4 linked regions of the Homo sapiens genome follow. The protein of the gene in region 4 purifies or fractionates together with the protein of the main gene of each other region. This does not show direct contact. Each region holds a gene or a part of one and is shown on either strand. Other genes may lie near its edges.

Evidence for each region.
Region 1: the proteins of ZNF3 (region 4) and PTPRK purify together in Homo sapiens (affinity purification with mass spectrometry; 2 studies listed by BioGRID and IntAct, with this or other methods). This does not show direct contact.
Region 2: the proteins of ZNF3 (region 4) and SHCBP1 purify together in Homo sapiens (affinity purification with mass spectrometry; 2 studies listed by BioGRID and IntAct, with this or other methods). This does not show direct contact.
Region 3: the proteins of ZNF3 (region 4) and CEP135 purify together in Homo sapiens (co-immunoprecipitation; one large-scale study listed by IntAct). This does not show direct contact.

What each region holds. Positions count from the first base shown.
Region 1 is NC_000006.12:128,514,100-128,517,599, reverse strand, and holds part of PTPRK (receptor-type tyrosine-protein phosphatase kappa isoform b precursor), read left to right. Parts: intron 1-3,500. UniProt on the Homo sapiens protein: Regulation of processes involving cell contact and adhesion such as growth control, tumor invasion, and metastasis. Negative regulator of EGFR signaling pathway. Forms complexes with beta-catenin and gamma-catenin/plakoglobin.
Region 2 is NC_000016.10:46,618,580-46,622,789, forward strand, and holds the start of SHCBP1 (SHC SH2 domain-binding protein 1), read right to left. Parts: upstream 2,801-4,210; 5' UTR 2,781-2,800; coding exon 2,678-2,780; intron 1-2,677. UniProt on the Homo sapiens protein: May play a role in signaling pathways governing cellular proliferation, cell growth and differentiation. May be a component of a novel signaling pathway downstream of Shc. Acts as a positive regulator of FGF signaling in neural progenitor cells.
Region 3 is NC_000004.12:55,951,945-55,955,444, reverse strand, and holds part of CEP135 (centrosomal protein of 135 kDa), read right to left. Parts: intron 3,360-3,500; 5' UTR 3,315-3,359; coding exon 3,202-3,314; intron 3,055-3,201; exon of another isoform or gene 2,974-3,054; intron 2,361-2,973; coding exon 2,170-2,360; intron 1,230-2,169; coding exon 1,062-1,229; intron 1-1,061. UniProt on the Homo sapiens protein: Centrosomal microtubule-binding protein involved in centriole biogenesis. Acts as a scaffolding protein during early centriole biogenesis.
Region 4 is NC_000007.14:100,078,924-100,082,878, forward strand, and holds the start of ZNF3 (zinc finger protein 3), read right to left. Parts: upstream 2,801-3,955; 5' UTR 2,712-2,800; intron 734-2,711; 5' UTR 613-733; intron 1-612. UniProt on the Homo sapiens protein: Involved in cell differentiation and/or proliferation.

The DNA of each region.
Region 1 (3,500 bases), on a different chromosome or scaffold from region 4:
TAAAGTGTAAAACTGCTGCACTGTGAGCCTCTTTAAAACCAGAACGTTCTGTAAATCCCAACTCATACATTCTTTCAGTTTCACCTCTCACTTAAAATGACACCCATGTCATATCTGAGGAAACCGAGGCATAGAAGAATAAAGAAGTATTAAAGTTTATTCACTGGGTTGTATAGCTGTGATCTCTTGATATAATGTAAGAAAGTTTTCTGTAGAAGGACTTAGATGACTGACGAAACCAGATGCAGGTAAGGTGACTTGGAAACTCAGCTTTCTCCTCTGTAAAATGGGGATAATAATACCCAACTTGACCTTTCCACATGTTTTTTATGATTAAATGAAGTAATTTATGGGAACTAGCACTGTAAATTGTAAAGCACTGTGCAGCTATCTGGGGTGTAATCATCATTAAGTGCCTTAGTCTCAGCTTTTTACTCCTTCCAAATTCTCTCTCCAGTAAGTGCAGGCTGTTCAGGATTTGTGTGTGAGTGTGTGTGTGCGCACGTGTGTGTGTGCATGTGTGTGTGTGTTTTCACTCAGCCAGTCATTCATTTAATTATTGTTTAACATAGTTATTGTTAAACATAAACATACTAGATTGGCCAGACCATAATTTTGTCAGCACAATGATCGATTATCCTTAATTTTTTTAACTTACCTCGTATAAATCCTTACTTGAGTTAGACCCATGGAAGAGTCACTATTAACATTCCTGGCATTTCTAACTACAGAAAAAAATATTTTTAGTCAGTTTCTTTAGCTGTTTGTTTAACTGTTGGTTCAGGTTTTCAACTCTGTGTTGAGAATAATATGTAGCTTTCTAGATGCAGTCTTATCAATGACCTAGAGAGGGACTATTGTCTCTCTTGTATGATAGGAGCCTGGAAATACAGCTCGAGATCCTGCTTTGTCTATAGTTCCTGACATGTCACCCTGTTGATGTGCACTTAGAATGCTGTAACTCATCTAAGCAGCACCTGAGCAGTATCTGACTCCTTGTTGTCTCTTTAGGTGAGATTAATTTCTCTTATACTTATTACCTGCTAGGAAGATACTTTGGAGCCAGCTTGCTTTAAGGTTTGCCTGTTAGTTTTTTTTGGTTTTGATTGGCTAAATATCCCTCGATCCCTCAATTCATTAAAACTCCACGTTCTAATCACTAGCAATCATATGTAGCTGGACATTTCCAGGACTGTTTTTTTTTCTCTCTCTAGTTCTCTTGCATCTGACTCTTGATTTTCCTAGGTCGTGAGATGTAGTTTTGTGTCTGGCCTACCCAGACGGAAAGAGGAGAGTCTGGCTGCTGTTTGGACATTGGCATGTGTGCTGCTGACAGCTCTTCTCTTTGTGCTCATAAAAGTGAATTTCAAAAATAAATCAACCCCTCTGCCACTCTGCCCCCTCCCACACTCCCTCCTACTCTTTTCTAGCAAAAACAGAGCCCCACATATATATACACAAGATCACAGCCCTTTTGTTTTTGCCAAATATATTTTAGTGCTGTACATGTCCTTAAGAACTGGAAATATGACTCATCCACTAACCAAAGCTAATGCCAACATTCCCACCAAATCTCATATTTCTAGCAATGATGGTTTGTTACAGGTTTTTCTGGCCTTTAAGGTAATATTTAATTCATGTGATAAGATTCCATATAGAAAAAGTGTGTTGGCTACTAATATTTTTAAAGTGCAGTATACCAGGTCTACTCAAACTGGTATTAAAGACAGTGAACATCATGCTAAATAGGGATCTGTGCTGCTCCCATTTCCCCTACTTGCTTTTCATGGAGTGCAGGAAGAGAGATGCTGGAAGATTGAGAGCAGGAAGCATCAAGAAAGTTTACAGATTGTTCTTAAAGACAAAACAAAGAACACAGGGATTCTGTGTGTGTGCACGTGTATGTGTGTGTGTGAGTGTGTGTATGTGTTTTTGATCTTTTACTTAATTTTTAGAAGAGGAAAAAAGTCCTATGGTATTTTTGACTTGTTTATTGAAATCAGCCTTTGCCTTTGCGCAAACACATTTTCTAGTTCTGTCAATGTAAAAATTTCCCTCTGTGTATTCTTCTCAGTCTTTACACTTTGATCATATGTATCTGGTCTGTGTTCCTTCTTCAAATGGTGTTTCTTTTTGCCTAAAAAGGTTGTAATTGCTTTTGAACATGACTTGTTTTTTTAATCAAAACTCATGCTGTTTGTCATAGTACTGAAAAAAAAAAGTACAAGACATCAATTCATGATAGGTCTTAAAACAGTATTTGATAACAAAGTAAGTGAATAATACATTAATCAGGCTATTTTTTATTTCAATTGAAGCAAAAAGCAAACTTGCATATCCATGAACTAATCTTTTAATGTCACAGAACATTTATTTGTTGCTGTTTCTGAAGTCTTTAAGTTCCCTTTTATAAATGGGGATAGACAATTTCAGAACCACATTGCTTGATATTTTGAGATAAGTGAGATAAGTTACATACAACTATGCCTTGGAAAACTGAAAAAATGTTATGATGTTTGATATCAGTGTGAACTCTGAATAGTTTGTAAACTTCACACTCCACATTAGTGCAAATGTGTTTTGTGAAAATACTCCTAAAGAAACGTAGTTTCACATAAAAGGTTTTTAAAGTTTCATGAAGATTCTGTTGTGGGAAGTATGTTTATTTTCCTTTTGTATTCTTGTGGGAATTCTTTTGATCTGTATTTAATATTTTAATAATGAAAACTAAGTGTATGTAATTTTAAAACTTAGTTTCGTGAGGTTTTTTTTAGATTGTTGAGGTTCTGGGAAAACACTGGGCCTGGGATCTAAGGATCACATTGATCCTCTCGTGGAACATTGCCATTTCCCCACTTAACTCTGGTTGAAATTTTTGGCATTCTCCTTCGTGTGTTGATAATCCATAAAAATTACAAGTGGCTTATTTTGTCACTTACAGTTGTTTTAGGATCAAATTAAGTTGTCCTAAATGGAATAATCCGTGTTTCCACTTGATATGATTATTGAGCTCTGATAATGAAAATGATGAACAGGGCAGTGCTGGCTGAATCCTCCAACAGGTGTCATTCTAGGAATTGTTTTAATAAGGGGAATTCAGAAACAAGGCAAAATAAAATAGTGCGTAGTGGAGTTATTGTTTGTATTTATTTTGTTGGGAAATGTGAAAGATGTAAGTATGTAGTCCTCTGTGTGAATACACACACACACACACACACACACACACACATCTTAACAATGCTAGGACTTAGTTGTAGAAACATTTAGGTTAGAAAGAAGGTAAGGGCATCTAGAGATGGTATCAAAACTCCATACTTAACATTTTTGGAAAGAGTAGTGAAAATAGATCACTACTTTATTTCATAGATGTAGAAACAAGTGGAAAATAAGCTGTATATAATCTATACTGTATACTATACTATACTGTTATACTTTTAAGGATAAAATAATAAATCTTTCTCCAGATTGGTATCTATTAATATAAACCCTTCCCAGTGCAG
Region 2 (4,210 bases), on a different chromosome or scaffold from region 4:
TAAGATCTTTCACAGTTAGATTTTTGTTGTTGTTCTGTGAGGTTTTGGGGAGAAGTAGAAGGCTGTTTTTGTTTTTGTTTTAGAAACGGTCTCACTCTGTCACCTAGGCTGGAGTGCAGTGGTGCGATCATAGCTCACCGCAACCTCAAACTCCTGGACTCAAGCTACCCTCCTGTCTCAGCCTCCTGAGTAACTAGGACTACAGACATGCACCACCACATCCAGCTGGAAGACAGTTGATTTTTAATTCAGTGGAAATCACTCAAGATCTCCTACAAAGCATACAGCCTGTGATTTATACTACAGTTAGCCAGTGATAATAATCAAGTATCTTAGTTATTTATTTTCCAAAGCAATTCCATAAAGCTCCTTTAAGAAAGGGAGCTGACTTCCTCTCAGATGGGTTAAGCCCTCCCTTTATTTCCTACAATATCAGTCTGTCAATCGCCCCTCAATAAACAGGGACGAGAGTCTTAATAATCCATAAGGTTTACTTCAGTAAGGTTATTAGATTCCTCCTCACTAATTTCAATGACTGTGTCTAAGGAAAAGATCAGAAAATGCAAATCACATTAGGTTTGGGCTGTATATAATGTTTCATAAGGTATGATTCAGCCAGTGGCATATCTAATTCTATGTAATGTTTTTAATAAATGAAACAACTACTAAATAAGCAATGCTAAAAAGGGTAGCATTTAGAATGTAGAGTAGTCTCCAGAAGTGGTTTCAGGGAAGGTATCTGAGCTGTTAGCAGATACCTTTTTTCTCCCTCCCCCTTGATTTTCTCCTTCCCTTTCCCCCTTCCTTCCATTTCTTTGTCCCTGTTCAGGCCACCAGAAGTACTTGACCCACAGATGACCAAAGTGTACTCAAGGGTCTACTGCTCACAAACACTGATGCACATGAACCTTAGAAGGCATCAGTACCTTACTGGTTATGTGACAATGCCTCAGCTTCCTCACCTATAAAGGGAAGATAATAGTACATCCACTTCAATTAAGAAGATTAATTGTTAATAATTTACAACAGTGCCTATTACATAATGTATATGTTTGTTAAAGAAATAGTAGTACTTCAGCACCATTCTTTTTTTTTCCAGCACCATTCTTTATAGCTTTATGGAGGTATAATTAACATATAGAAGTTATATACATTTAAAGTGTATAACCTGATGGCCAGGCACGGTGGCTCACACCTGTAATCTCAGCACTTTGGGAGGCCGAGATGGGCGGATCACCTGAGGTTAGGAGCTCGACACCAGCCTGGCCAACAGGGTGAAACCCCGTCTCTACTAAAAATACAAAAATTAGCTGGGTGTGGTGGCGGGCGCCTATAATCCCAGCTACTTGGGAGGCTGAGGCAGGAGAATCATTTGAACCCGGGAGGCAGAGGTTGCAGTGAGCTGACATTGTGTGCCACTGCACTCCAGCCTGGGCAACAGAGTGAGACTCTGCCTCAAAAAAAATAAAATAAAATAAAAAATAAAGTGTGTAACATGATGTTTTGATATACCTATACATTATGAAATGATTACCACAGTAAAGTGAATTAATATTTCCATCACCTCGCATAGTTACCTTTTGTGTGTGTGTGGTGTGAACACTTATGATCTACTCTGTTAGCAAATTTCAAGTACAAAATTTGTGTCGCATTGCACCATCACGTCATTGCCTATTAATACTGTAATAATAATACAGTATTATTAACTATAGTCACCATGCTGTATGTACATCAGATCCCCAGAACTATTCACACTGCATAACTGAAACTTTGGACCCTTTGCCCAGCATCTCCCCATTCCCCCAACCCACTGGCAACTACCACTCTACTCTCTTTCTGAAACTTCCTCTTTTTTAGATTCCCAATATAAGCGATGCCATGCAGTATTTATTTTTGCAGCCACTTTAAAAACTTTATTTCACTTCAACTTCACCACAAGTACAACCATTGGCATAGTCTTCCAGATGGGAAAACTGAAGCCAAGTGACTTTTGCCAGTTGGATAGGTGGGTTAATAGTGGAATTGTCACACTTATGTTTTCTCACTTTGTTGGGACTCTCTGCTACACAATACAACCGAAAGTGTTAACGTAAAAACATGAACCAGCTTAAAATATCAGAAAAAAAAAATAGTAATGAAACTCTATGAGGAGGAAGAAAGGGCAGAGAACTAGAAGACCCCGGTTCTATTTCTGGACTCCGGCCCAAGTTGGCGCTCCTCACTTTGGACACGTCACTACCCTCCGTGCACAGGACAGCCATCTAAGCCAAGGGTTCAAGCTTTTCTCTTCTTCGGAAAAGGGAAGTGTGGTTCGTGATCTCCTTTGAGATGCAGATGAAAAAATGGCCCCTTGAGCAACAGTAAATGCACAGTTCCCGCAAAACCCATCCAGATAGGGAATTCCTGGCCCAATCCAGCTCCCTCCAACCTCGGGGCGGGCGGAGGCCAGAGAGTGCAGGGAGAGTGGGAGATGCGGATAGGGAAGAGAGGGAGTCCCCCACCCCTGGGTACCGCCCGACTTTGAGGTCCCGTCACTGGGTCCCGGCCGCGCACCGCCGTTCCCGCCACCCTGGACAGACGGGTCCGGAAGGCCCGCGACCCAGGCGCCCTCCTAGGGTCCCGACGCCCCAGGCCTCCGCTCAGAGGCGGCTCCTCGGCCCCGGCATGGAGAGCTCACCTTTCTCCAGAGACGCCAGCTCCTGCTCCACCGCCCAGCCCATGCGCTCCGGCGCCATGGCCGCTGCCTCCAGACCGCCGCCCGTCAGCGACCCGTCAGCCATTTCAAATTTCCGCGGACGGCAGCCCAGGCAACGACGTGATGACGCAGGCTCTGCTGATTTGATAGTCGGGCCGAGGCCGTGGACCAATTAGAGTCCGGCCCCGCTCCAGCCCCCACCAACACTGCCCCCTCGCCCCAGGCTGACAGCTGTTCTTGTTCAAGTGCCCGGCCTTTGCTTTTCTGGGATGAACTTGAAGAAAGTCGAATTGGAATATAATTTGGAATGATTTTCGAAAAAAACGAACCAGCAATGCCTGGAAATGAGATATAGTGGAAAAGTCACTGGGTTGAGAGTCAAAAAACATAGTATTTAAACTTACCTGGGCTATTCCTAGTGGTATTGCCTTGGGCAAGTCATTTCACCTCCCACAAGCACAACTTCAACTGAAAAGGATGCTGGCCTACGTGGGCCCAAAACTTTCACCACCAAACACCAGTCTCTCTCTGTCTTTCAATACACACACACACACACACACACACACAGAGAGAGAGAGAGAGAGAGAGAGCATATTTTCAAAGAATGTCAAATTAAATTTAGTAAGTAAATTTGTTAATTTGCATTAATCAAAGACAACTATAATCTCCATCATAATGGCTAACATTTACTGCATATTGTGTGCAAGATACCCTCCTGCATGCGTTACCTGGATTGTTCTGTTTAATCTTCACAATGATCCTATGAGACGGGAGCTATTACTATACCCATTTTACAAATGAGCAAATGGAGTCACTAAGAAGTTAAGTCACTTCTCCAATCTAACCCAGCAAAGCCAGGATGTGAAACCAGCCAGACTCCATGAAGAAGCCTTTTAATGTCTCTGCCAGGCCATCACTACTAGAATGATGAGGTCAGCCCAAGATAGCCCAGGTAACCAGGACACCAAGTGGGATGCGTCCACAGGGGACCAAGAGCCTGGTCATGACAGTTCGTCTGTGCAGTCTTAATGTGGGGAAACATTTCCACTTATTGCTTTGAAGAAACACCTTGGGCTAAAGTCTCTCGGATCCCTTACAGCTGAAATAAAATGGAGCCAGGAGGGGTGACTGGAAAGCTGCACTTAATTGGGCTAACTTTTCCAGGAAGTAAGATTTCTTTGACTTTTGTTTGCAGAATCTGACCTTACATTTATTTGCTCACTGAACAAATACATATTGAGCACCATGAGGTAAAAACACAGAAAACAATAATCAAGACTATCAACAGGCCTTGAGGATGACGCTAGCTTTTTCATTATTCTCTTCTTCAACCTTGCCGCCCACAAACCTCACAAATGGCAGCATTTCTCCTCACCCATTTGCAGCATCACTGGAGACAACACAGTTCTCTTCTCATCCAATTATCAAATATTTCATCAACCATCAAGATATTACTCAAACCAGGCTAGGCATAGTGGCTCATGCCTGTAATCCCACCACTTTAGGAGACCGAGG
Region 3 (3,500 bases), on a different chromosome or scaffold from region 4:
ATCTGTCCACTCTCAGGAGTCTCCTCTCCCCTCAACTTCAGGCACACAATAAGATGATACACTTTGGCCTTTGTCATCACTCAGAACTCTGCTGGCTTCTAGTTCTTCAACTCCAAAATTCCACTCTGACTGCAATCTTCATAGCAAACAAATTACTTTTGGTACTCATCATGCTCTTTAATCTGTCTTGACCTAGCCTCATAATCCAGCAGCCCCCTGTTACTCACTTAATTTCATAATCTTGATCCCATGGTTCAGCTATCTTAATGATTTTGTCACTAATATTGTAGATTCTACCACCAACCCATACCTGCTGAACAATCACCAACTCTGGATGTGGCCCATCATTTCTTTTTTTTTTTTTGAGACAGGGTCTCACTCTATCACCCAAGCTGGAGTGCAGTGGTGCAATCTCAGCTCACTGCAACCTCCGCCTCCCAGGCTCAAGCAATCCTCCCACCTCAGCCTCCCAAGTAGCTGGAACTATAGGCTTGCGCCACCATGCCCAGCTAATTTTTGTATTTTTGGTAGAGGTGGGGTTTCATCACGTTCCCACACAGGTCTTGAAGCGGCCTCAAATGATCTGCCCACTTCAGCCTCCCAAAGTGGTGGGATTACAGGTGTGAGCCACTGCACCTGGACCCATCATTTCCTTTTCTTGCTCTATAACTACTAAGCATAATGCTAAAAATAGTAAAATAAACTAAGAAAGTACATAATTTCCAAATTCTTTAATGAGTATGGATTACTTTTACAACTAAAATAATAATGATAATAATAATAGAAAAAAGAATTTAAAATATTGATTAGAGAAAGCTCTGGGCATTAAAGTTAGACTAGTATCTAAGTAACTAATACTACATACATTTCTAAGCACACGTATAAATTACTACCCGGATCATTAGAAATAAATCAAGAAGTTTACGGTCTATTCAATATATATTTTCAAACACTAAAGTCTAAGCATGAAAATCCAATCCAAAGTCCTATTTTAGTCAATGGTGTTAATATCGTTAAAAGATTAAATGTGTATAATTTGTCTCGAGAAGGAATCGATTTACCTGGAGTTTGTACTACAGCATGCAAATTCTTTTCTTGAAGTTGTTGAATTCTTTCATTCTTAGCTTTGCTCTCTTTCTCCAACAGTTTGAGTTTATGAGCATATTGGTTATTCAGAAATTTCAGATCAGCTGTTTCACGTGCACATTTCTTCAATGAAGTTTTCAACTCTTAAAATGAAAAAGATTCAAAGACCGTTTTAAAGATCAAGAAATCCAATGAAGTTTTTCCATTTCACAAAATACAAAAAGTCATATCAATTTAAAAGTCTCCACCTGCTTCTTATGCATGCTTTAGTTGACACTTATTCCTTCTTCTACTATTATTAACAAAACTGCAAATAACTCACTAAGCACAAAAGAGAATCTTCATTTTTCAGCTACTGTATTAGCCTAACGTACATCATAGCTTTTGATCCAGTAAATTGGGTCTGAAGCTAAAGGATTATGAATTCATACCATGGATTAGATAAAGTTTTCTACTGAATATAAGAATAATTCATACAAAGATAACCATATAATTATCTTTTCCCTAGTACCTTTGAAATCATCCTATTCTACTTGACAGCTCAAAGACTGACTATAAAACAGTCAGCATGATACATGGTTTTCACCTTATTTACTACTTTTATTTTCAGTAAGGGAAAAACAAAAGTTGTTTCAAGAACATTTCTTCAAATCCAGCATTTAATATTCCCTATGGCAATTTTAATTCTAAAATTTTAATTAAATTTTTAATTCTAAAAATTTAATCCACATATAGTGATTATCATAGCTATATAATGCACATTTATTTTCCTTCTCAGGAACTCTTCAACATACCCTATAGTATTTCAGGGGCTATTAGCAGAAGGAGTACCATATTTTCTTTTCTTTTCTTTTTTTTTGAAACAAGTTCTCACTATGTTGCCTAGGCTGGTCTCAAACTCCTGGGCTCAAGCAATCCTCCCACCTTAAACTCCCGAGTAGCTGGGACTATAGGCACACACCATCCAGCTGTAGGACTACTATATTTTCTAATCAATAGTTTTAAAATTAGACGTTAGCTTTTCCTTCTAAAATAAAAAGGACAAAGACATTGCATTTTAAAAATTATCAAATTTTCACTTACCTTTAACGTGTTGGTCTGAATGTTCTCTCAGTTTCATTAACTCTAGGTATAATTCATTATTTTCTCTACTCAATCTTGCATTTTCAAGTTTATAGGGTTCCAAAACAAAATCAAAATTGGCACTTTCTTTTTCAGCTTTCACAGCAGATAATTTTGATTGCCGAAGGCTCTCAGTTGTATGAACTAAGTCGCTAAAAGAACAGAAAATTTAAATACCAGGAAATATTTCATTAACTTTCTAATAACTAAAAACATATTTCTAAAGAGGCTTAAAATACAGTCATGCACCACATGATGACATTTTGGTCAACGACAGACCACATATAGGAAGGAGAGTAGTCCTGTAAGATTTATAATGGGGGCAGCTGAAAAATTCCTATTGCCTCATGAGATCTGGCCATTGTAACACTGTAGCACAACACAATACCTTTTCTATGTTTAGATATGTTCAGATATACAAATAGGCACCACTGTGTTAACAATTACCTACAGTATTCAGTATAGTAACATGCTATACAGGTTTGTAGCCTAGGAGCCATAGGATACAGACCATATAGCCTAGGTTTGTGGTAGGCGACACCATCTAGGTTTGTGTAAGCACACCCTATGATGTTGGTACAACGAAAAAATCACCTAATGATGACATGTTTCTCAGAACGTATCCCTGTCATGAAACTATCCATGACTGTATTTGAAGACCAGTGAAGCAGACATAGAACTTAAGGGGGGGAAAAAAAAAGAACTTAAGGGAAAAGTGTCTCTCAATTATATCAGAAACCCAAAAAACTGTAATTCCATTCACAGAGAAAACCCCCAGAAATGTTGACTTTGAACAGTACAGCGTGAGTGGTGGCCTTTAGAGTTCTGCCGTGTGGAAGGCCTGGATTGAGGACAGGGAAAAAACAGATAAGCTTCATGATTGAAAGCCTTTCCGGAAAGCTACCCTTTTCTTTACCAAAGCATGAAGTTCAATCAGAAATGAGGTAAGTGGTTAGGGATCATAAAGGTTGAAAACTGTATTTTTGTCTTTACCTGAAAAGTTTTTCTACCAAAGGTAAACACTCCACTGTCAGAGTCTGGCGGTATCCCAGCTGATCCAGCCTTTTCCTAATATTAATATACTTTCTCTCTACAGCTGTAGTCATCTCGTCTTCTAAAACAAGTTTTATTCACTTCCAAAAATTAAAGTCCTGAGAGAAAAGAATGAAACATCATTATCTTATTATAGCTATGATTGTTGTTTCACAATAAGAAGAAAAAATTATTTTAATATGAAGCAATTATTTTTTGTTTTTCTTCAGGTAGGTAGCCTTCTGGAAAATTCAGATTTA
Region 4 (3,955 bases):
AATAAAAGAAAAAAAAAGAACAAAGGAAGAGGGGTCCTGTTTGAAAGTCAGTCGCAAGTTTGGGCAACTCTGGTCTTCGGGTAGCAGGGGATATAGAATGTCCAATACCAGAGCCCTTACACAGTGGAAAGCACTGACTCAGGCACAAGCCAGGCCACTGGCAATCAAGGTGACACACCTTCTTGCCACCATCGCCCTCCTAGCAGGGTCCCTTCAATGGTGTCTCAGAGCCAACCATCATATCCTCTTATCAACCACCTTTACAATCTCCGGAGCTATTTATGAGCTGACGCCCTCAACAAGTCAGCTTTCAGTACAAACTCCTAGAAAGGCAGGTCAAAGGTCTGACTCCAGAGAAAAAGGCAACAGCTCCCTCTCACAGCTGGGTTAAGTGAAGCTGGAACTCAAAGGCATATTGTTGAGAACAAGCACCCAGTGTCCAGATCAGTAAACAGCGTTTCTCACAGAAAGAAAACTCTCCATTGTGCCCCCATGGCTTCAGGTCCAGACAGGGCCCTTCCCCTGCTCTGTTGCCAGCCTCACTCCCTGGTGCTGCCCGTGGGGACCGAGATAGATGGCCTGGCAGTAAGAACAAGACACGGAAAGCTTTACCTGCCTGATTCTTTCCTTCCTTCTTTGAAGTCAGTCCCTAGAAGGCCAAAGGAGCAATTACTGGGAATTTAGCAGCCTCTGTTCAAGTTCCCGGGAATTCTGACTTTTGTTGATGCCAATGCTGTGTGATTAAGGGGAAAAAAAGGAATTTAAAATATTCATGCAAACGTCTTTTTTTTTCCATGAGACAGGGTCTGACTCTGCTGCTCAGGCTGGAGTGCAGTGAGTTTGAGCTCACTCCAGACTCAAACTCCTAAGTTCAAGTGATCCTCCCAGCTCAGCCTCCCAAGGAGCTGGGACTAAAGGTGTGCACTGCCACATCTGGCTGAGTTTTTTAAAATTCTTTTTGTAGAAATGCAGCCTCACTGTGTTGCTCAGGCTGGTCTCAATCTCCTGGCCTCAAGTGATTCTCCCACCTCAGCCTCCCAAAGTGCTGGGATTACAGGCATGAGCCACCGAGTCCAGCCTAAACTTCATTTCTAATCAAGACATTTAAAGAAAAGGAAAAAAAAGAGAATACTTATTATATGCTAATAAATACCAATTAAGACCACCACCACAACTAGTATTTGCGTTGCACCCGTGGAGAGATGAAAGGGAATGGTAGGTTCTCAGGTCCACCTCCACCCAGGGTAAGAAAGTTCTAACGTTCTGTCAGCTAACTTGCTAGACACTGTGCTCCGAACTACTTCAGCAGGGGATCCACATTGCACAGCTGAGCCATTAGAAGTCTTCAGGTGATTCGCTGAAAATCTATCTCCTTGGACCTTCACCGCACAGAGACCTAGTGCATCACAGAAATTCAATGACTGGCGACCTGCAGTGGCTCACGCCTGTAACCCCAGCACTTTAGGAGGCTGAGGTGGGAGGATTACTTGAGCCCAGGAGTTCCAGGCTATGGTGAGCCATGATGGCACCACGGCACTCCAGCCGGGGGCAACAGAGCAAGACCTTAATACACACACAAACATTTTAAAAGGAAAAAAAAAAAAAAGGCCGGGCGCGGTGGCTAACGCCTGTAATCCCAACACTTTGGGAGGCCAAGGCAGGTGGATCACTTGAGGCCAGGAGTTGCAGACCAGCCTGGCCAAAAGGGCGGAACCCCGTCTCTACTAAAAATACAAAAAATTCGCCGGAGGTGGTGGCGGGCGCCTGTAGTCCCAACCACTCGGGAGGCTGAAGCAGGAGAAGCGCTTGAACCGGGAGGCGGAGGTTGCAGTGAGCCGAGATCGCGCCACTGCACTCCAGAGACAGTCTCAAAAATAAATAAAAATTAATTTTTTTAAAAAAAGAGCTTCAATAACAGAATCTTCTCCTTCCACCCGACTGTCCATCAAACACGTATAATCAAATGATGCCCACTCTCCACAGATGTCTTTTCTGGAGAAAATAATACGCTCGTTCCTCTAATTAGCCCATCGGTTTCAGGTTCATCACTCTGCTATCTTCTCCTGGAGTTTACAAAAGCCCTTCAGAGTGTAAACACCGATGTGGATTCAATCCCACTTCCGGAGAGAGGATCAAACCAGGAATCTAATACAACTGAAAACGGAGCCTGAGCCAGGTGTATCACGCGATGCACTGGGCTCCAGCAGGATTACCCCTGGAATCGGCGTCTGCACCCACTCCCAGCCCTCGTGCTAACTGCGTACGCTTAGCAGAATTTCTCTGATCCTTGGACCCAGCTGCGTAAAAATAAACTTCCTCTCCTGCCACGGGCGCGAATAACTGTGTTAACATCAAATAAAAACGTCTGGGAGAAATACCAAGTTAGGGTCGCTGTCATTAGCTGCTTTCAAGAGAGAGGCGCCCCTACCGCTCTGCTGAAACTTTTAAACGCTCCAGCTGGGTCGCCGTTAAAGTCACAAAACCAGAACCGGAGCCCCATTACTAACCCCTACGCAGGATCCCGCTAGGCTAGGGGGATCCCTGGGGAAGCGGAGTAGAGGACGGGCTGCAGGGGACGGAGGGGCGCCTCCCCGAACCCTGCTCCGGGCCGGCCGGGGGACCCTGCGGGCCGCAGTGGCACAGACACCACCCCCTTCCCCGGCGACCACAGCCTCCGTCTCACCGCGAGACCCGGGGACGCGTGGACTCACCCTGGGGGCAGGGACGACAGATTTGGGGGACCGGACACGGACCAGGCCCTGTTGGACCCTGTCACAGACCCACACACCGGGGACAGAACAAAGAACGGAAGTTCCCCCTCGTTTCGCTTCCGGGTCGGTTGTTCTTGCCACTCACCCGTACCCCCAACGCCCACTTGTTCTGTCTAGGAAAATGGGAGGTCCTCGCCTCTCTGTGGTTTGCTGACTCAGGGCGGCTGGCAGGCGGCGAGGGCAAGGAGCGCGATCGCTGACGCGGCACTCGGGGATCTTTCGCTGCGGGGGCTGGCCGGCTGCGCCCTCTGCTGGCCACGAATGTGCGAAAGCGGCCGACCACGGTCCTGGGCCTCAGGACATGTGCTCCAGCGTCGCCGGCCTTGGGGGCGGGCGGCGGGGGCGCGCGGGGATGTCGAGCCCGCGCTTCTCAGGCTGGCTCGCGAAGGGCAGCAGTAAACATACAATTATTGAAGGATTCATCAATATTAAAAAATGAACCCTGATTTAAAACTTGCCTCCGAACAAACCGAGTTTTTTTTGTTTCTTGTAAAAATGCCCCCTTTAAATTACCCACATCTGAAGAAAACATTCCAGTCCATCACAGAGTTGACATGAGGAAAAAACCCGTGTACAGGTGATGAGAGCAGAGAAGAGGAAGCTTACCGGCCGGGCGCGGAGGCTCACGCCTGTAATCCCAGCACTTTAGGAGGCCGAGGCGGGCGGATCACCTGAGGTCAGGAGTTCGAGACCAGCCTGGCCAACATGGCGAAACCCCGTCTCGACTAAAAATACAAAAAAATTACCCGGGCGTGGTGGCAGACGCCTGTAATCCCAGCTACTCTGGAGGCTGAGACAGGAGAATCGCTTGAACCCAGGAGGCGGAGGTTGCAGTGAGCCGACATCGCACCACTGTACTCCAGGCTGGCCACAGAGTGAGACTGTCTCAAAAAAAAAAAAAAGGAAGCTACAGGTGGAAGCGAGGCGGGGATAGTCAAGGAAGTGACCGTGTCCTGGAGACGCGGCAACCGTGGTGACCGCAGTCAACACAGTAAGCCCCAGCATTCGCATTGTAATTGAGCTCATTCAAGCTGAGCGCTCTCCAGTAGGGACTTTCCCCTGTAGGGAGCATGCGCATTTTGATTTCACCTGTCCTCAAACTGACCCTTTGCTCATTATCTTGGTAAAAAACACGCCCCTGGGTGGAAATTTAAGATGCTAATGAAACATGCAATGTATGAACA